Homo sapiens: one gene and its partners. The protein of the gene in region 1 purifies or fractionates together with the protein of each later gene. This does not show direct contact. Each region holds a gene or a part of one and is shown on either strand. Other genes may lie near its edges.

Region 1 (7,026 bases):
ATTTCAAAACAAAAATATTTACTGAGTCCTTATTTGAAACTTTTTATTTTCTTCAGAGCATTTATATCTATATAGCATTTTGCTCATTTACATGTTTGTTTATTACTATGAACAGATACACAAGATCCCACCTTTCGTGAAGCTTACATTCTAGGAAGATAACAAACTTGTAAATAAGTGAGCAAAGTAATTTCAGATACATATTATCAGTTCAATGAAGAAAGTAAAACATGATAATCATGTAATAGAAGCTGCTCAGCAACTTCAGAGCTATGGTCAGGGAGGGCCTGGGGATGTGTGTTTGACCTGGGAAGACCTGGGAAAAGGCAGGCAGAGGAGGCAGAGGACCATCAAGTGCAAAGACTCTAAGGTGGAAACACATTTGGCAAATTCAAGGAATATAAAAACCGCCAACGTGTAAAAGAAAACATAGGGGAAAAGCTTCATGACACTGGCCTTGGCAATGATTTCCTGGACATGACACCAAAGACCAGGCAACAAGACCAAAAATAAACACATGAGACTACAGCAAACAAGCTTCCACACAGCAAAGGAAACGATTAACAGAGCAAAAAGGCAACCTATGGAATAGGAGAAAGTACTTGCAAACCACATACCTGGTAAGGGGTTAATCTCCAAAATACATAAGGAATCTCTACAACTCAACAACAAAAAAACCTGATTTTAACATGGGCTAAGATCTTACATAGACACTTCTCAGGCTGGGCATGGTAGCTCACGCCTATAACCCCGAGGCAGACAGTTCACTTGAGCCCAGGAGTTCAAGACCAGCCTTGGCAACATGGCAGAATCCTGTCTCTACAAAGAAATTAGCTGGGTGTGATGGTGCACGCCTGTGGTCCCAACTACTCGGGAGGTAGGAGGATCGCTTTAGCCCAGGAGGTCGAGGCTGCAGTGAGCTGCGATCAAGCCACTGTACTCCAGTCTGGGAGACAGAGTGTCAAAAAAAATTAAAAATTAAAAAAATAGACATTTCTTCAAAGAGGATATAAAAATGGGCAACACATATATGAAAAAGTTCTTATCACTAATCATCAGGAAAATGCAAATCAAAATCACATAATAACCTCACACTTGTCAAGATGACTATAATGAAAAAAGACAAGTGTTAGCAAGGATGTGTAGAAATCAGAACCTTTGCACACTGTTGGCGGGAATGTAAAATGGTACAGCTGCTATGGAAAACAGTATAGATGTTCTTCAAAAAATTAAAACTAGAACTACCATGTGATTCAGCAATCTCACTACTGGGTATATATCCAAATTAAATGAAATCAAGTTCTCAAAGAGATATTAGCACTCTCACGTAGACTGCAGCACTGTTCACAACAGCATAATGTCAATGTCCATCAGCAGATGAATGGATAAAGAAAATGTGTTAATGCTATTCCACCTAAAAAGGAAGGAAATTCTGCAATATGTGACAACATGGATGGACATTGCGGACATTATGCTAAGTAAAATAAGCCAGACACAGAAAGACAAATACTGCATGATTGTTCTTAAAAGGTGTATCAAAAGTAGTCAGATTCATAAAATCAAAAACTAGAATGGAAGGAATCTAGGCAGACTCCTAAATTTGGGGTCTGATCAGCTAAGTGGATGGCAAAGCCAGTGAGAATTTATCCAAAAGCACAAAAGTTGTTTCCTTCTCTTCATAGTCTCCTATGTGTCTTTCAGGCATGAAGTCATCAATATCAACCTGAAAAATAAGCCTGAGTGGTTCTTTAAGAAAAATCCCTTTGGTCTGGTGCCAGTTCTGGAAAACAGTCAGGGTCAGCTGATCTACGAGTCTGCCATCACCTGTGAGTACCTGGATGAAGCATACCCAGGGAAGAAGCTGTTGCCGGATGACCCCTATGAGAAAGCTTGCCAGAAGATGATCTTAGAGTTGTTTTCTAAGGTTTGTGCATAAGAAATTTCAGCTCCTATTTGAAAAACCTGTTTTTTAAAGCGAAATCAGTGCTGCCATTTATGGTTCAGTGATTTGGGAGAGAAAAACAAAACAGGAATATGCTTGTCAGCTCTGAGTGTCCTGCAAGTCCTTTCACGATCCAGTTCCTGTTTACCTCCAAAATTATCCCTTTTCACTCGTCTCCTGACACTTTATATATGCCAGCCATACTAAACTTTTCTCAGAATTCCCAAATTCGCCCCTTTCTCTTTCAATTCTTGCTGTCAGATTCTTCCCACTTCTCACTGTGCCTGGTTATCTCCACGTCATTTTTCACATGTCTGCTCCGACACTGCTGCCTTTTCAGGAGCTTGGCAGGCTGGTTAGTGCTCTAGCTTCTGAGTTCCCATCCGTGTGAACTTTTGCCTGCCTTCTTGCCTGTGTACTGCACTGGGGCTGTGAGCTCCTTGAGGGTGAGGGCTGTGTTTTGATCACTGTTAGTTCACTGCCTAGTTTTATGACTGGCTCTGCTACTTTCTTGTGACTCTGAGCAAGTTACTTATTACTTTGCCTCTCCGTTCATCATTGGTAAAATGGATATAGTAATTGTTCCCACCTCATAAGATAAAAATCAGTTAATATAAAACACCCAGAACAGAGTCTGACACATGGGAACTACTTAATTCTTGTCCTTATAGCCATAGCATCAAGCAGTGAGCATCTACTTTGTGTTGGCAATAACTCAGATGACTGAATAAATAGCAATCCTGTAGAAGAACTGTTTGTACCTTACTTAGCATCAACACTGTGGATTAGTTCAAACAATTAGTATTAACAAAGAAATGACTAAAAGATGTGTGTTTAGACACCAAGAATAGCATGTCTGGTTATATGCCTATAACATTGTCACCTTGGTAGTACGGTCAGTATATAAAGGATTATCTTTAGAGAAAAAGATGGTTAAAGAAATGCCCTAAGAGAGAGTTATAGGGAAAACATTCTGTTTTAGGAGACATTATAAAGGGAAGCCAATGGGACAGGAAGAGTGAGTCATCTGCTTAGTAAGATGAGGGTGAAAGAATAGTAGAGGCGGCTGCTGTGAAAGATAATGTAAAGGGAACATGACATTTTCAAGAACGATGTGGGAGAGTTTTACAAAGTAGTAACAAGTTAAAGGCATGCAGCTTCAAGACACGAAGTCATCAATACCAACCAAAAAAAATAAGCCTAAGTGGTTCTTAAAGAAAAATCTCTTTGGTCTGGTGCCAGTTCTGGAAAACTTTTTTTAGTATGGCTGGAATATAAAGTGTCAGGAGAAGAGATAAAAGGGGTAACTTTGGAGAGGTAAACAGGAACTGGATCGTGAAAGGACTTGTAGGACACGTCAGAGAAAATGAGCTTTAAAAGTAAAGCTTTTAGACATGAAGCTTTACTTTCATGCATAAAGCTACTACTTTAAAAAGTAGTCACAAGAGATTCATTGTACTATCTAGAAAGAAAATGAGATTTAAAAGTAATGCTGAAGATGCCCACCTTTACTTCCCTGCTTGGGTTTTAAAGGAGAGGTGGCTTTATGTACATATGACCCTGCTCTCCTGGCCACAGCCCATCAGAACAGAAATGTACCCCACCCCACACACCTGGGCCAGTTATCTTCTCTCCTGGGAACTTGGAAATGAGACACAGAACTAAGACAGTAAAGGTTAGGACAGTAAAGACAACTAAGCGTTGGGGCTCAAATAATGTTAATTAGAGGCTAGAAAAACCAAAGCCACTTAAGAAATAAATTTTTAGAGGAGCAAGAATTAAAAACATTGCAAAGGGACTGAAGTATGCAAAGTAATATGGAGCAGAAATGTGAGGAAAAACAGACGAAAGACCAGGCAGACCCAGGTGGAAATGTGGATGAAAGGGCTGCCTGAAAGCCTTCAGTCCCAGTGAAGGCAGGCTGAACTGATGTGGATGGGATTTCATGGGATTCTATATTTTTACAAGTGCCTGTTTACTTAAACTAGGATGAGTGGACTTCTGCGTCTTGCAATAAAATGATACCAAAGACCAAAGTATTAAAACACATAAACACCATCACGAGCATTAAAGCATCTGATGCTACACCCATCAAGTCTTTAGGTAGTCGGTCCCTTTTGAACAGTCTCCTGGTGTCCTCCCCAACAAAGAAATCAGAAAAATTTTCTTCCCTAGCTCTTTGCAGTTGGGGCCAAGTTTTGTGACCTAGGCTCTTCCTGTCAGACACACACATAGAGTTCAAATCAGAAACGAGCAAGGTAAGGAAACAGGCTTGGTGGGATATCTGCTTAAGATATTCAGCTCTCCACTGGTTTTCCTGGTGAGAGCAGCGGCAGAGCTTCTGGGTTTCAGCAGTGTGGGTTACAAGATAAAATTCCAGAGTAGAAATGGCATCAGTGCCAGTGGTGTTAGCAGTTATCTCAGACTCTACTTTCTGGCAGCCTCACAAACTGAAGCATCTGGTGCTCAGCTTGGACTGGCAGCAGTGAGTGCTTCCCATTAGGCCATTTCTCAGCATGAATTTGGGATGTTCTGTCTTAATTCCAAGCCTGTTTGTTCCGCCTCCCAATAATTCTATGAGCCACTCAGTCTCCTTTAAAGAAAGTTGTGTTGGCCGGGCGTGGTGGCTCAAGCCTGTAATCCCAGCACTTTGGGAGGCTGAGGCAGATGGATCACCTGAGGTCAGGAGTTTTCAGACCAGCCTGGCCAATATGGTGAATCCCCATCTCTACTAAAAATACAAAAATTAGCCTGGCGTGGTGGCGCACGCCCATAATCTCAGCTACTAAGGAGGCGGAGACAGGAGAATTGCTTGAGCCCGGGCAGTGGAGGTTGCAGTGAGCTGAGATCGTGCCACTGCATTCCAGCCTGGGTGATAGAGCATGACTCCATTTCAAAAAAGAAAGAAAGTTGTTTCTTAAACGTGCCAGGGTAGCTTCTGTTATTTGTAATTTATAAAATCCTGACCAAGCCAGCATTTTAGGCCACAAAACTGTTCCTAAGACCAGTCCATTACCTCTGTGAGCGCAGGAACTTGATGCACCCTTGGTGTTTCTAGAACACCTTGACACCAGGACTGTAAGGGTTCTACCATATTTTTATGTGAGGGGGCCGATACAGTTAGCCATAAACTGATAAACTAAGAAATTATTCTCTGTCTAGGTGCCATCCTTGGTAGGAAGCTTTATTAGAAGCCAAAATAAAGAAGACTATGCTGGCCTAAAAGAAGAATTTCGTAAAGAATTTACCAAGCTAGAGGAGGTAATTATTTCTCCTAGCTATCATCAGAGTAAACGATAACTATATCTACCCTCCTTTTCCTCCTATTCTTTTCTTTATATTCCCACTTTCCAAGTCACTTTAAGGTAATTAGGAAAATTCCCCTAAACATTTTTGTTTACAGCAGACTGCTGTTATAAAGCAGAAAGCTGTCCTGCTTAAGATATAAATCAAAACACCTAAACAGACTTTGTCATGGGCTTGCTTTTAAAATATTCTGCTAATGTTAAAATAACAAGGAAAAAGGAAATTGTACCCACGTTTCCACAAGTTTTTATGTATCCAGTTTTCCATGCTTGTTTGCAGTCCTTGTCCATATATTTAAAAAAAATTAATATAGCTCTAATCAGAGCATAGATATCATTCTGTGTCCTGCTTTTTTTCCTGTGTCCACTTAGTATTACATACTAAATATTTCCCACCAGAAAAAGTTTGCAATGAACAGTACAGACACTTGAGGGAAGCCCAGATGTATTTTACCTTCTTTTGGGGACAGCTGACATTTGGGCCTTGGAGTCTGTCTCTTGGCCTTGAAATATTTCATTCATGCTAAGCCTGAAGTTTTTACTGACAGAAGACATAGTTCCTGTCTTTCATGGGAATGCATTTTAACATTTTATCAGTAAGCATGATGTTTGCTGTAGGTTTTTCAGAAACCTTTTTTTCATTATAAAGTTCTCTTCTATTACTAGTTTGCTAATTTTTAAAAAAGTCATAAATGTTGAATTTTATTGAATGGTTTTTCTGCATCTGTTACATCTATTGAAATGTTCATAGAATTTTTTCCTCTTAATCTGGTGAATATGGTGCTATTGACAAATTTTTTTTTTTTTAATGTTTAACCATCCTAGCATTCCTAAGATAAAACCTACTTGTTCTCTATGGATTTTTATATGTACTGTAGAATTAGCTAATGAATGATTTTTGTATGTGTGTTCATAAATGAGATTGGCCTATAAATTTTCTACTCTTATAGTATCATTATTGGCTTTTGGTTTCAAGGATATTCTGACCTCATAAAATGAGTTGGGTAACTAACCTGTTTTTCTAATCTCTGAAACCATTTGGTAGGGACTAGCGGTTTCTTTAAAACATTTGAGCCTGGTGTCTTTAACAGGGGTAGATTTTTCATTACTAGTTTGATTTCTTTAATGGTAATTGGTTTTTTGGTTTTATATTTCTTCTTGAATCAGTGTTGGTACTTTTATATTTTTCTGCTGAACAGTGTGGGAGCTGGAAAGTAAGATGCAGTCCATATTCTTCAGATAATTAGTTTAGTAGTAGACAGAACACAGTAGGTAGATATAAGCAATCTAAAATGCATATTATGCATTGAAAAAAAACTATGGAGGTTATTTATAAAGGGCAAATTAGTTTGGTGGTTTAAATAGCCAGATAATATTCTCAATCACCCCCTTTGGCAAACCCTGTAACCAATTCGCCTTCTTAAAATTTCAGAAACATACAATTTGTGTTTTGTTTTCAAATGATTGTCATCTGTTTAGCAGTTAATCCAGTCTATTTCCAGTATATTTTAAGTACAAATGCTTTTGCACTTACAATGGGGTTACATCCAATAAACCCACCGTAAGCTGAAAATATCATAAGTGGAAAATGCATTTAATAAACCCAACCTACAGAGCATCATAGCTTAGCCTAGCCTGCTTTAAATGTGCTCAGAAAACTTCCATTAGCCTGCAATTAGGCAAAATCATCAAACATAAAACCATCAAACATAAAATATTTATAAAGTGTTGAATATCTCATATAATTTATCGAATACCTGCATCCAAAAGATGCTGGCA
Region 2 (6,409 bases), on another chromosome or scaffold:
TTTTCAAACATCTGAAGGAAAGAAAACAATAATGTCTGTCTCCCCTAAAGCTTTTCCTGAGATGCTCCAGCTATAGCCCAACCCTACTTAGGTGGATAGGAGTTCCTATCACAGGGCTTTCCAACAGAGATCCTTAGCCAGAATGAGATAAACATGTCCACTAAGACAAGGCAGTACTACTTTTCTTTCCTTTTCCTTGCTTCCAAAAACCCCCAAAGCACCAACCCCCTCCTTTCCTCTGGGATTTATAACATTAACCATGCTTTTCTCAAAAATCTATTTCAATCTTTAACATTTCTTTCCTAACAAAAAAACACTAACTCACAGAGACCTCCACCTCTGTTCCTGTTTTTATAGAACCAAAATAATTACTTAATAATTATATATTGATCACATATTAAGATATTTTGGATATAATGGATTAAATAATTACAAACCATTTTACTTGTTTCTTTTTATTTTTAATGTGACTACCAAGAAGTTTAAAATTCACACATGGCTAACATTTTCCTTTGTGTTTATTTTGTTGTTAAGTACAGGGGTACATGTGCAGGTTTGTTACATAGGTAAACTTGTGTCATGAGGGTTTGTTGTACAGATAATTTCATCACCAAGGTATTAAGCCTAGTACTCATTAGTTATTTTTCCTGATCCTCTCCCTCCTCCCACCCTCCAATAGACCCCAGAATGTGTTGTTCCCATGTCCATGTGTTCTCACCATTTAGCTCTCACTTATAAGAGAACATGCAGTGTTTGGTTTTCTGTTCTTGCATTAGTTTGCTAAGGATAATGGCCTCCAGCTCCACCCATGTCTTTTCAGAGGACATGATCTTATTCTTTTTTACGGCTGCATAGTATTCCATGGTGTACATATACCACATTGTCTTTATCCAGTCTATCACTGATGAACATTTAGGTTGATTTCATGTCTTCGCTATTGTGAATAGTGCAGCAATGAACATACACGTGAGTATGTGTTTATAATAGAACAATTTATATTCCTTCGGGTATATACCTAGTAATGGGATTACTGGGTCAAATATCTTTAAATATTTGAGGACTCTCTACACTCTCTTCCACAATGGTTGGACCAATTTACACTCCCACTAACAGCGTATAAGCATTCCTTTTTCTCTACAACCTCACTAGCATCTGTAATTTTTTGTCCTGATTTCAATTCTTTTCTGAACATCCATTTTTAACTAATTTACAACATATAGTAGTTTCACTAGAGTGAAATGAACATACTGATTTAAATTACTAACTTCCTGGACTTTTTTTAATTCAGAATTTTTGAAAATGAGAGTATCAGCTCTTGTTCACTGATTTTGATCTCTATTGACTAGTGGCTGAAATTTCCTCTTAAAACTAATGCTTCTAAAGTCAAGAAAACATAGTTTCCATTTTCAAAATTAGCTTCAACAAGATCATGTGAAGCAAAATGTGAAGGAAATAATTTAAAGAAAAATCAGATGAAACATTAAACTATACATCCAGTGGCGGTACTCTGCCTAAAGGAGTTTGATGTGGCAGGAACATCCTTCAGGCCTCAGAAGATGGGGAGCGGGAGGGAAGGCATTGACAAACAAGAACTAGATGAAACAGAAGTTATAGCTGATCAAGAATTTATCTTTATTCTGATTATGATTCTTCAAAGAGCATTAGTTGTTTAAATTTAATTTAAGCCATGCTTAAATCGAATACATACAAAATATGATTACTTATATTCCTTTTGACCAAAGAGCTGAAAATTTTGTGTTCCAGTTCATCTTACTCATGTTATTCTGATGCGAAACACTCTAAATGCAAATTGTTTTGAAAGTAAATAGGCCAAGTGGCCTACCCTGCCCTTTTTATAGTATAAATTCTGTGATACTGCCTTCTTTTCAGTATATGCTCCTCTGTGGGCCTTTGGCTTACACGGAGACCATCAGCTACAACGCATGGCAGTCAGCTTCAGAGTCCTCGCTCCAGTGTGCATCTCGTTTCTCAGCCACAAGTTTGATGAATTGAGAGTGACTGGCATAAAGCTTCAGTTTATCATTGATGTCCACCCATTTCACTTTTCCAGCATCATCTCCAGCTTCTAGCATAAGATTATCCATTATCTCACCTGGTTGCCAAAGAAAAACCATCACCAAGAAAAACTCATTTCTGTTTTAGCATATCTATGTCGTCAAGTATTCTTATTTAAAATAATCTTATATCATCATTGTACTAGCCGGCCAAGTGAATTAAAAACTAGACCATTCCATCCCTGGTCAGCAGAATGAATAAAAGAAAAAAAACTAGAGTATTCCAAAATGTCCAAATTTTAACCAAGTCCCTAAATTTTAGATAAACACAAAGAGTTTTCTCTAAAAAGATTATCCTTAAAAACGAGATTATATTACATGAATATGAAACCTTACATCAAAATCAGTCCAAGAGGGATGAGAGATTTAAATGTAAAAAAATAAACAAAGCTGAGGCGGGTAGATCACCTGAGGTCAGGAGTTCGAGACCAGCCTGGCCAACATGGTGAAACCCCATCTCTACTAAAAATACAAAAATTAGCCAGGAGTGGTGGCACATGCCTGCAGTCCCAGCTTACTTGGGAGGCTGAGGCAAGAGAATTGTCTGAATCCATGAGGTGGAGGTTGCAGTGAGCCAAGATCACACCACTGCACTCCAGCCTGGCAACAGGGTGAGACTCCACCTCAAAAAAAAAAAAAAAAAATTTAAATTATCAAAAAAATAAAAAATAAGTGCTCCCAATCACTGCTGGGAATATAAATGGAATATTTCTGTAGGAAATTTGGCAATGTTTATCAAGAGCTTTTAAAAAGTAAGTTTTCTTTGACAAGCACTCATTCTGTAAATATCAGAGTGCATCTTGTGTGCCAGACTGTACTAGGCACTGAAGATACAATAAGCAATCCAGTAATTCCTCTTTGAAGAATTTATTCTGATGAAATAGAGACAAGCCTATTAAAGTATTCAAGGCAACATTACTTAAATATTTTATTTTATTTTATTTATTTTTAGATGGAGTCTCGCTGTTGTTGACCAGGCTGAAGTGCAGTGGCACAATCACGGCTCACTGCAACCTCCGCGTCCTGAGTACAAGCGATTCTCCTGCCTCAGCCCCCCGAGTACCTGGGATTACAGGCATCTGCCACCACGCCCAGCTAATTTTTTTGTATTCTTAGTAGAGACCACACTGCCATACCAAAAACTGGAGAGACAGGCAAATACAGAGAATCACAACTGACCAGGGAGAGAAGCCTACCGCTGGAGTCAGCACCTGGTAGGAACACTTAAAGGGTAACTAACTGCTGAAAGCTGACCTTTGGACTAGCTTGAAAGATAAAATCTCCTAGGGGGTCAGCCATACCAGTATGAAGAGGGGGCCTACATTTTAGTGAGCTTTACCTCCAAGAAAGCCACCAGGTGAAGACTGGAGAAAAATCCTCTCTCCTTTCTAACATGGAGAGGGGAAAGGTAACCAATTTCAAATACACCCAGATCACTCTGCCCTCAAGGAAAACTATTTTACCAAGCCCTAAGCAACCTGAGGGAAAGGAAATACCCAACTCCAGCCCCCGCTGGATTTCCTGTCTTTCCTAAGGATTGGGGAGGAAGGAGGGAAGCTGAGAATAACATATGAAGGGTCACAGCCCAGGGCCACAGGCTCACTAAAAGACTGACATCTAACCATATATTCTCCTATGATTCCCCTTCCTCTAGAATTTACCACCATATCTATCAATAGGACTCCTGTTTAATAAAAGGGGAAGACAGCTGAAAGAAGGGCATGCTTCAGACCTCATTTAATAAGTCTCCAGGGAAACCCAAAACTAGAGGAAATTTTAGCCTCTGACACATACAATGACAGCAAACAAAAAACACAGCCTAACTCCTAGCCAGATAAACATAAAACCTCACGCTAAAGAACTATTTGCCTTAGTTCCCTTACAAGTTATATCATGGTCAATTTTCAAAAAAGCACTACAGCCAGGCGCAGTGGCTCATGACTGTAATCCCAGCACTTTGGGAGGCCAAGGTGGGTGGATTACCTGAAGTAAGGAGTTTGAGACCAGCCTGGCCAACATGGTGAAACCCCATCTCTACTAAAAATACAAAAATTAGCCAGGCATGGTGGTGCATGCCTGTAGTACCAGCTACTTGAGAGTCTGAGGCAGGAGAATCGCCTGAACCCGAGAGGCAGAGGTTGCAGTGAGCCATTATCATGCCACTGCACTCCAGCGTGGGTGACAGAGCAAGACTCCATCTCGGGGTTAAAAAAAAAAAAAAAGAAAAAAGAAAAAAAAGCACTAAAAGCACGCTAAAAGGCAAAAAACATAGCCTAAAGAAACAAAGCAAATATTAAAACCGAACTCAAATATGGCAGAGATTTTGGAATTATCAAAACAAAATTTTTTAAGTTTAAAGAGAGAAAAAGATAGGGTAAAAACAGTGAACAATCCATAAACTCTATAATCAACTTCTGGAGGATCAGTCATTGTTTTTAACTCCAAAACTTTAAAGTAGTTAACAAATTTATCAGTACTAAAGTTGTACAGACCTGCTTCTAATTTACATCTGCATATTTCTTCTAAGTTTTCATACTAGGATAAACTCTTCTAATACACCTTAGTGGAAATACAGGAATAGAAAATGGTCCCAGGAGTTTCCTCCAAGTTCAACAAGCAAAAGCACAGGATATGGAAATGACAGATCTAGTTCTAGCCCATTTTGTAAGTGAAAAAACTGAGTCCAAGAGGACAAATGATTTGTACAAGGTTACACAGCTCAGAAAGAACTATGAGTGGAACATTCATTTCATTTCTCTAGCATGGTGCCCCCACTTTTATGCTACAAATAAAAACAAATCAAATTTAGCAATAAAATATGTTTCAAGGGAGCCATTCAATGTGTACATTAAGACCAAATTAATTTTTAAGACAGCAGATTTTTCCTTTCTCCTTCTGTAATAACAGGTTTGACCCTCCTCATAAAATTTTAAATTCCATACACCAGAAACAGCATTCATTTAAAATTTTTTCAGTACTTGGAATTTTTTGTTATTGCTTTGTGTATTAACAATCCAAGATTATTATAAAAATATTTGAAATAGTAAGATATAAATCCCATTTCCTTTATCATTGCCATACTTCCTACCCAAATCCCAGTTGCTTTTGTTTTGCAAAAAAAGGGAACTATACTCAATAAATAATCTGACATCTTTAAAGCATATCATTTTAGCCCATAATTTCATCCTTAATTTCAAATGTTACCAATGGATTAAAGAAAATTTAGTCACTGGTGATAAAAGTTTTGAAGATTTCTTCTATGTATTCCTTTAATACCAACAATTTTGCTTTCATATAACTACAGTCCTACAATCAACAGTTAATTGGTTTAAGATGCTAAATAGTCCAGATTTAATCATGCCTTAGTGGGCTAATGGCTTAAATTGATCCTTTAATCCCAGCCAGTTTAATAAATATAAAGTTACCTGTTTCGTCATGGTAGTTCACAGCTTCTGTCTCCATCCATGCATTATCAGTGTTTCGAGGATCATCAACATATCCCTTATATATCTATTTTCAAAAGAAGACAAATTTTTTAAAAGTCCAAGGTGTAGTGAGTACAGCAGAGCATGTTACCTTCACTAGCATCAGAAATGTAAATATCCTGTTGCCCAACAACATGAACATACTTAATGCTACTGAGCTGTACCTTCAACAGTTTAGATGGTAAATTTGACATTATGTGTTTCTATCAAAATTTTTTTAAAGAAATGTAAATAGCCGGGCGCGGTGGCTCACGCCTGTAATCGCAGCACTTTGGGAGGCTGAGGCGGGTGGATCACCTGAGGTCAGGAGTTCGAGACCAGCCTGACCAACAAGGTGAAACCCTGTCTCTACTAAAAATACAAAAAAAATTAGCCATGCATGGTGGTAGGTGCCTGTAGTCCCGGCTACTCGGGAGGCTAAGACAGGAGAAATTACTTGAACCCAGGAGGTGGAGGTAGCAGTGAGCCAAGATCGCGCCACTGCACTCCAGCCTGGGCAACACAGCGAGACTCTGTCTCAAAAAAAAAAAAAAAGAAAGAAAGAAAGAAAAAAAGAAAGAAATGTAAATATCATAAAACTTTTAATGTAGTACTTCATGTGCTTGTTTCAAATTTCCCAAAGAACAATATTCTCTTTTGAGGCAGCTTTAAAAATCATGAAACCCTCAGGCCAGGCGTGGTGGCTCATGCCTGTAATACCAGCACTTTGGGAGGCGGAGGTGGGCGGATCATGAGGTCAAGAGATCAAGACCATCCTGGCCAACATGGTGAAACCTCGTCTCTACTAAAAACACAAAAATTAGCTGGGCATGGTGGAGAACACCTGTAGTCCCAGCTACTCAGGAGGCT
Region 3 (7,304 bases), on another chromosome or scaffold:
CCAGAGGCCACTCCACCATAGAAACCTCTAACCTCTGATGCACAGGGGAATGGCTGGAAGACAGGTAGGAAGAGGAAGGGGCTAAGAGCTACTACCACCAGTAAGCCCCCTTTCCGCAGCCCAGTTCCAGACCTCTCTCCTGGGAGTGGCTGTGCTCAGGGCTGTTTCCAGGGACCAAGTGGCCTGAGGCTCGGGGATCACCATGGCACAGGTAAAGAAAGGGCAGGAGAATGATTAACCTAGACACTGGGGTTAAGAGCAGAGAGAAAGGCCTGAAGCCAGACACTTCCAGTGCCCCCCAACCCCCCAAGGCAGGACAAACTTGGCCTCCCAGACCCACCACTGGGTGGAAAGTGGATGCTGAGGAACCCCCTCCACCGCCCAACGCTGGGGCCTGGACACAGCTGGCAGGGTCACGGCCTCCAGCTGCAGTGTATCTGCTCCACTCTGGGGCCATTGCCCTCAAGCTCTGAGGTGCCAGAGCCATAGGGCGGGGTCCTGAGAAGGGGCAGTTCCAACCAGGCCAGGCCTGGTCAGCAGCTGTTTCTCTTCCCCACCCCCACGGGCAGGCAGAAGCTGATGGGCTGCGGCTGCTGGAGCTGGGAAGGCCCACCCTAGGGACACCCAGGGGACCTGCCCCTGCCTTCCCTCAAACATAAAGAAAACAGTAAGCAAGTTGCCTACCAGGGTGAGAAGAGATATGCCCAGCTGGAAGACAGGTGTGGGGGACCCCCAGAGCTGGGGACCCCAAAGGAAGGTGACAGCTGAACAACCTGGGGGATGGACTGGCAGGGAGCAACCTAAACCCTAGCGCTACTGCAGCTGTGAGAACAACCCTCACCCTCACCCTGGAGTTACAATAGGCGGGAAACGGGGAGGGGCCACGCAAGGCACTCGGCCCCACCCAGACCCTGGGCTGGAAGCTTACCTCACCAAAGCCAAAGCCAAAGAAAAGGCGGACATGGGTGGGGGCAGGGAGGACTTCAGGGTTCTTGGCTAGGGTGTTTAATTGGGAAGACAAAGGGACTCTCCATCCACCGTGCAGATGGAACACAGGAGAACTTCCCAACTCAGATTTGGGACAGGGAGTGTTCTCAAAGAGCAGCACAGTGAGGGCACCAGCCCACAGAGCGAGGTGCCACAGCCAGCAGCAAGGATGGGGGGCGGCCCACAATTAAGGGAACCACCGTAGGGCAGCCCCTCACCACCGAGAGTCAGGAGCAGAAGAGAAAGCTGAGGCTACACAAACAGGAAGCTCCAAAGCTTGCGTGGGAGGAGGGGATGAGGTGGGGGCCGTTGCCATGGCTTCTGTGTACCAAACAGTGTTGGAGGCTGGGTGGGGGCTCCGGGCAGAAACACCCTGTCAACACAGACGTTGTGGTGAGCAGGCTGTGAGCACGGGAGCAGAAGTGGGATCGTCTCAGCAGTGCTCGGGTGTAGCCAGGTGCAAGAGATTATTCCAGGAGACAGCTATAGTGGGGATGGACAGCGTGTGGGGGAAGATAGGAAATGACCCGTGTTGGGGTGAAGAAGAGGACTCAGGAAGTAGTTGTTCAGGAGAAGAAATCCCCTGGGAAGGGAAAGTGTTCTGAGCTAGAGAACCCACAGCTGAAAATTCTGGAGGGAGAAGGGATGGAATGAAGAAAGGATTAGGGGCCAATCCCGGGGTGGGGGACAGGGGCAGAGGCCTTGGGGTGAGGGAGGGAGTTGCGGTTGGACAAAACCTATTTGTTGGTTCTGGAATGGTAGGGCCCTACTGGGCCCGCCCTGCCTTGGCCTCCTCTGCAGTTGTAGGTCTGCCCCTTGTAGTGGGGAGGAGAAACTGGGAGGGGGCTAGAGATAGAGAGCCATTGCTGTCTGGTGCTTTGAAGTCAATGAGAACACTGGGGGAGCCCCGTCCCAGCCGCAGGTCTTCTACATCGAATCCCACACTCCATCCCCACTCTCACCCCGTTTCTCTCTGCCCCACAGATACCAACTGCTCACAGATCTCCCAGGACACCGGCTTCAGGTAGCCCCAGGAGGCACAGGGCGCGGGGGGAGGCGGCAGTCCACCTCCGGTCCTGCAGGTCCGGCCTCCCAGCCGCCGCCCCCCACCCCCACGACCACACCCTGGGCCGTTACAACAGATGAGTCACCCACCGCCCTCCCGCCGCTGGGGTGACGCAGTGGTCTGGGCAGCCCGCCCGTCCGCCCGCGGCCACCACCGGCTTTCCCAGCAGCAGGGGGCACCCGGTGGGGGCAGCGGCGCTCGGGCAGGGTAAAAGCAGCCACCACCACCCCCACAACCTCACACAGGGCACCCCGGGGCGCAGTCAGGGCTGCAGCACCCAGACCCCCGAGGTCAGGGGACCGTCATAGAGATGACTGGAGCTTCACAGAAGGTCACCGTGCGACCCATGCAGAGCCCCCTAGCCCCAGCCCGTGACCTCAAGTCCCCAGAATAGCAAGCTAGCAGGAACAGGAATGAAAAGGGCGGCCTCGGGGACTCAGAGGGCACGCAGTGCTCACACGTGCTCCTGGAACCAGGAAGTGAAGGGTCGCGCGGGAAAGCCCAGGAGCACGAGCTGGCCCAGGGCCGGCGCCACGACCCGGGGTCACTCGGGGCCAGCCAGCTAAAGTCCGACGCCCTTTTTTCCCCTCGCCCCAGTGAGGACTCAGCGATGGAGCCCGCGGGTGGGGCTCAGTCCCTGAGTCCCTGCTCCAGACGGACGCCCTGTCTATGCATGGGCTAACCTCGCCTGACCTCATCGTCCAACAATGTCGGGTCAGGGCTTGGGGACAGGACCTGACAGCACGGGGCGGGGTAAAGTAGTCACCGGACCCTTGCCTGGTACCAGCCCTTGATCCCCGAGCTCGCTGGAGCAAGTTCAAAGCGCTGGCTTCTTGCTTTCTACACAGCACGCACATGTCCCCGACCCCCGTACCCCCGACCTGCTCACCGTTCAAGCGGGCTGGAGAGCGGCGCACTGACTCAAGGCAAGGGCTGCAGCTGCAAGTGGTGCGCCCTGCCCAGCCGGGGATTTTCAGGAGGGTCCCGCCTCAGACGGGGCGGACCCGGGGCGGGGCAAGGGCCAAGAAGGTTTAAAGGCGCCGCAGCGCAGAAGGAGGGAGGACTGCTTGAGACAGAGGGACAGTAGACCAGAGCAAGGGTTAAAGGTTCGGGGAGTCTGAATCTACAAAGGCGGCTGCAGTGGTCTCCACCCGTGAGTACCTCAGCCTCCACCGAGAGCCCGTAGACTTGTGCCCCAGTAGGAAACTTTCTGCCTAGAAAGTTAGCTAAACACTGTGGGCGTGTTTATGTAGGAAGAAGCCTCCTAGTTTAGAGGCTGGCAAGGTAAAAGGAGGCACAGGAAGGCCTTCCCCCGACCCCAACTGACTAGTGTGTGACAGGACTGGGACTTGCAGGCCGGGACAGCACCCCCACGTGATCTTGCTCACCTCTTACTTCAAGCCTGGGCAGGGACTAACAGTGAGGTCACTCTGCCCAGGGCCCTAGGGGTGTTTTCGGTGTTGGGACCCAGGGCTCAGACCTGTCTTCTCCCTGCCTTTCATCTCCTTTTCTATGACCTGGTATCTCTTCCTAAATCCTGGAGGGATCAGAGGGGGAGACCTCAGCGCGAGGAGGCTGGCTGGGGTTCTTTTGTCTCTGAGGGTGGAGGACAGCACAGTTCAGGGGTGGAGAAAGAGCCCCCCATCCTTTCAGGCTTCAGTTGAATAGAGTCCCCCGGGGTGGAGTTCTGCACACATGATAGAGTCCTCCCTTGAACCTGAGATTCCAGGATGTCAATATCCAGTCCTGTCCAACCTTTCTATTATTCTCTGTTCCCTCCCCGAGTCCTACACAGCCCTATATTCCAGTCCCACTGATTGTCAAGCATTCTCACTCTTCTGTGCCTTTACAAAGGCTATTCCTCTGCCTAGGACAGTTTCCCTTCCTTGACTGGCTCCCCACCTGCTCTACCCTTTACCTGCTGTGTGACTGTTGTGCATTCTATGCTTGAGTTCCCTGGTCTATAGAACAGAGCTAATAGTACTACCTAATTCATAGAATTGTAGAGAACTAAACAGTCCACCTATAGGGCTTAGAGCAGTGCCTGGCACATAGTGAATACTATTATTACCACCATCTATCTGTGAGGGTCCTGAGGACTCCCCCCCAATATGTGGCATTTGTCCCAGCACACGATATTAGCGTTCACTAAAGGTGGCCTTGAATGCAACATCTTCCTTTGTGCTACAATAACCAACACATAGCTTTATCACGGAACTTATCATACGGTAACTATTTCTTTGTCCGCCTCACTGACTAGAAAGAACTCCTCAAGGGCAAAGGCGTGCTTCCAGAGCTTTGTATTTTCTCAGTATCTACTTCAGTGGCTGGCCTTTAGTAGCTGGCCTCCGTAAGCACTCAATAAATGTTCTTGAATGAATGCTGAATGCACCTCCATTTATTCAAGAAGATTCTCCTCTTCTTTAAGGGTCCAGGGATTTTCCTGGCACTCTCTCAAAGACAGATAACACACAGAAACATCTTTCAAACTTTGTTTATTCACCTGTAAAAAACTTCACACACACACACACACACACAGAGAGAGAGAGAGAGAGAGAGAGAGAGAGAGAGGCAGACCTAAGATCCCTGTTCCAATCCCCAGACTCACCTAGGGGGTCAGCACATACATTCCATACCAAGGTGACCCAAACCCACTATCAGGGTCTGTGCCTGGGCACCAAAGGGGCAGGCAGGGGCAGTGCCCTCGTTTGAAACTAGGTCTGTCTGGTTGGGGGCCTCCTTTGCAGGTCCATATGCCTTTTCACAGCCTCACATCAGGGATGTTCACAGCAGAGTGGCCTGTTCGGGGTGGGGGACTGGCTGTCGATAGGCTGGTAGCCGAGCCCTAGTAGCATCTCGGCGGCGGCGGAAGGCCAGGAATTCCTCCCGAAGGGCAGCACAGCGGGCCTCAGGGCCAGTAACATGGGCAGTGTTCAGGAGGCAGCCCTCCTCTGGAGTCTTCACACCTGCAAGAGGCGGGCAGGACAATGAGAAGAAGCCCTGAGGTTCACTGAGTGAAGAGCTCAGATGTGAAGCTCGCTAGGCCCTTCCAGTACAGATGGCCCAAGGGGGCAAGGCACAGTCTAGAGCAGAGGAGCCTGGGAGGCAGGGCCTGACTGGGAATAGATGGGTCCTAAGGTGGCGGGGGGATGTGGGACAGTATGGCCGAGATGCCTGCCTTTCCGGGGGGCTCACACACCTAGCTCTGGCTCAGCTTCAGGTCTGAGCCGGGAGCTGGCCAAGCCCAGGTGCAAAGTCTCCAGCAATTCCATGTCCCCAGGGAATTCTGAGTCCCACTCATAGTTCTCGTCCACAGATGTGTTCCTCCTGTAAAAAAAAAAAAAAAGACAAACATATGGTGTGGGTGGAGGAATAGAGGCTGTTCAGAAAAGTCTGAATTCAGCGACCGCAAACTCACGTTAGGTCATGGGTTTCCCCTGAAAAATCCCTGGACCTCAGCAAAAGCTTCTAAAAGGGACAAGTTTTCCCGTTCCCAGGGTGGGAGTGGAGCAGAGAAGGTGCAGGGTATTGGGAGAGGGGTGAGAGGTCTGGGGTGGGACTGAGGCGGAGGCAGGGATGGGCAGGGACTGCTCTCACCTCTTGCTGACTGTCACCACATGCTCCCTTCGGGGCCATCTCTCAGGGCCACTGGCCCAGCTGCTGGTGTCTCCTGGAGCAGGGCTGAGGTAGCTGCCTCCTGCAGAGGGGGCTGTGGAGGGGGGCCGCAGGAACGAAGCGCTGCCTCGCCCACTGCTCTGGCTGGTGAGGCTGCCTCGAGGGGCAGCAGGGAGAAGGCCTGGCAGCAGCCGCTCCCTCAGTGTCCAGTCAGCCAGGGCTGTGTAAGGGGGCTCTGCAGTGGCCCCAGCCCCTACCACAGCCCCAGGAAGTGATTCCCTGGGGGATACAGGAGGGGTTTCTGGAGAACGAAGGAAAGATGAGGTGGGACAGCGCCGGGTATCCATGTAATCTGGGGGTGCAGCAGGGCTGGGCTCCTCAAGCGGGGGCCAGTCCCCATCCACATTCATCTCTCGGAAGAAGGGCAGGCTCAGGTACTGGAGCAGGGGTCCAGGACCTGGCAAGGGACTGGGTGGGGCTGCTGGAGGGGGTGCCACAGGGCTGATGTCTTCAATGCAGAGGGGCTGGGGTGCCCCACTGGGGCTGCTGCTGCTACAGTCAAAGGACCGGGCCAGACGCTGGGCTGGAGTCCGAGGTTCTGCCTGCTCCCGGCCTGACCTTTCCTGGGGGGCCGCCACAGTGGGCCCCATCACAAAGCGCCCGTCTGGGCCCCGGCAAATGGGCTCCAGAGGTAAGGGTCCCCGGCTAGATGGAGGATCCGGGTGGGGGCTGGGAGTTCCGGCAGGATCCCCCCAGAGCAGACTCTGGCGCAGGCTGGGGACTGGGGATCCCTGGAGCTTCAGCTTCGCCACGCTGTCAGGACTGCCTGAGCCCAGAGCAGAGCTGGGGAAGGACAGGAGATCAGGGTCTGTGGTAGGGGCAGGTCCCCCTCCCAGGAGCCAGCGTCAGGCCTTGAGAGGTTTGGTGAACAACAGAGCAGAGCTAGGAAGAACAAGCGAGGAAAGGACCAACAAGGTGGAGGGGTGGAGGGAAGGCACAGGCCATACTGGAACGGCCTCAGGCTGGGGCCACTGCACACCCCTTCTTACCCTCTCCCACTTTTGTTCCTCCCCAACACCCAACATCCCCCTGGTAAAGATGCAAAAAAGGAAGCAGAAGATACTGGCACGTACAATGGAAAGGCAGAAGAAAGCCAAGGAGGTGGAGGCACTTACGGTGCAGCTGACTTCCCGGTCGGAGAGAAGATAAGAGGTGGATCTGGAAGGGCATGAGAATAGTAGGTGACACAGGCAAAAATCAAGGCCCTCTAGGCGGAGACTCTCTCACCCAACACCAGGCGCCCAACCCCATCCGGCTGGGAAAAGCGTAGGCAGGACCAGATGCAGGACTAAGAGAATGCACCTGGATCACACAGGAGCGAGGGCTTTTCCCCCAGGTAGGAGGGGCTTAAGGAGGCTAGGCCCAAGTGCGCAGTAGCAGGGCTGAGGGTGGAGGGACTTACCTTGGCGGAGGCGCTTGCGGCGGCGGCGGGCAGCCCTGCGCCGGTTCAGGAGGCAGCCGGCCAGGATGCTCACAAGGACGGCCACTCCCAGAAAGCAGACTCCGCCCACCACGCCGGCCAGCACGGGCTGAGGCAGGAGGCCCGGCAGCTGCGTGCGCGAAGGGTAGACCTCCA

Evidence for each region.
Region 2: the proteins of GSTO1 (region 1) and NUDT9 fractionate together in Homo sapiens (co-fractionation; 2 studies listed by BioGRID). This does not show direct contact.
Region 3: the proteins of GSTO1 (region 1) and TAGLN2 fractionate together in Homo sapiens (co-fractionation; 2 studies listed by BioGRID). This does not show direct contact.

The regions. Positions count from the first base shown.
Region 1 is NC_000010.11:104,257,875-104,264,900, forward strand, and holds part of GSTO1 (glutathione S-transferase omega-1), read left to right. Parts: intron 1-1,701; coding exon 1,702-1,924; intron 1,925-5,104; coding exon 5,105-5,203; intron 5,204-7,026. UniProt on the Homo sapiens protein: Exhibits glutathione-dependent thiol transferase and dehydroascorbate reductase activities. Has S-(phenacyl)glutathione reductase activity. Also has glutathione S-transferase activity.
Region 2 is NC_000004.12:87,453,547-87,459,955, reverse strand, and holds the end of NUDT9 (ADP-ribose pyrophosphatase, mitochondrial isoform a precursor), read right to left. Parts: intron 5,586-6,409; coding exon 5,501-5,585; intron 2,114-5,500; coding exon 1,935-2,113; 3' UTR 501-1,934; downstream 1-500.
Region 3 is NC_000001.11:159,922,508-159,929,811, forward strand, and holds the start of TAGLN2 (transgelin-2), read right to left. Parts: upstream 3,001-7,304; 5' UTR 2,943-3,000; exon of another isoform or gene 1,972-2,942; intron 1,445-1,971; exon of another isoform or gene 1,371-1,444; intron 1,228-1,370; exon of another isoform or gene 964-1,227; coding exon of another isoform or gene 929-963; intron 1-928. Other genes in the region: IGSF9 (protein turtle homolog A isoform a precursor), read right to left, coding at 4,838-5,019, 5,253-5,380, 5,651-6,511, 6,844-6,886, 7,131-7,304.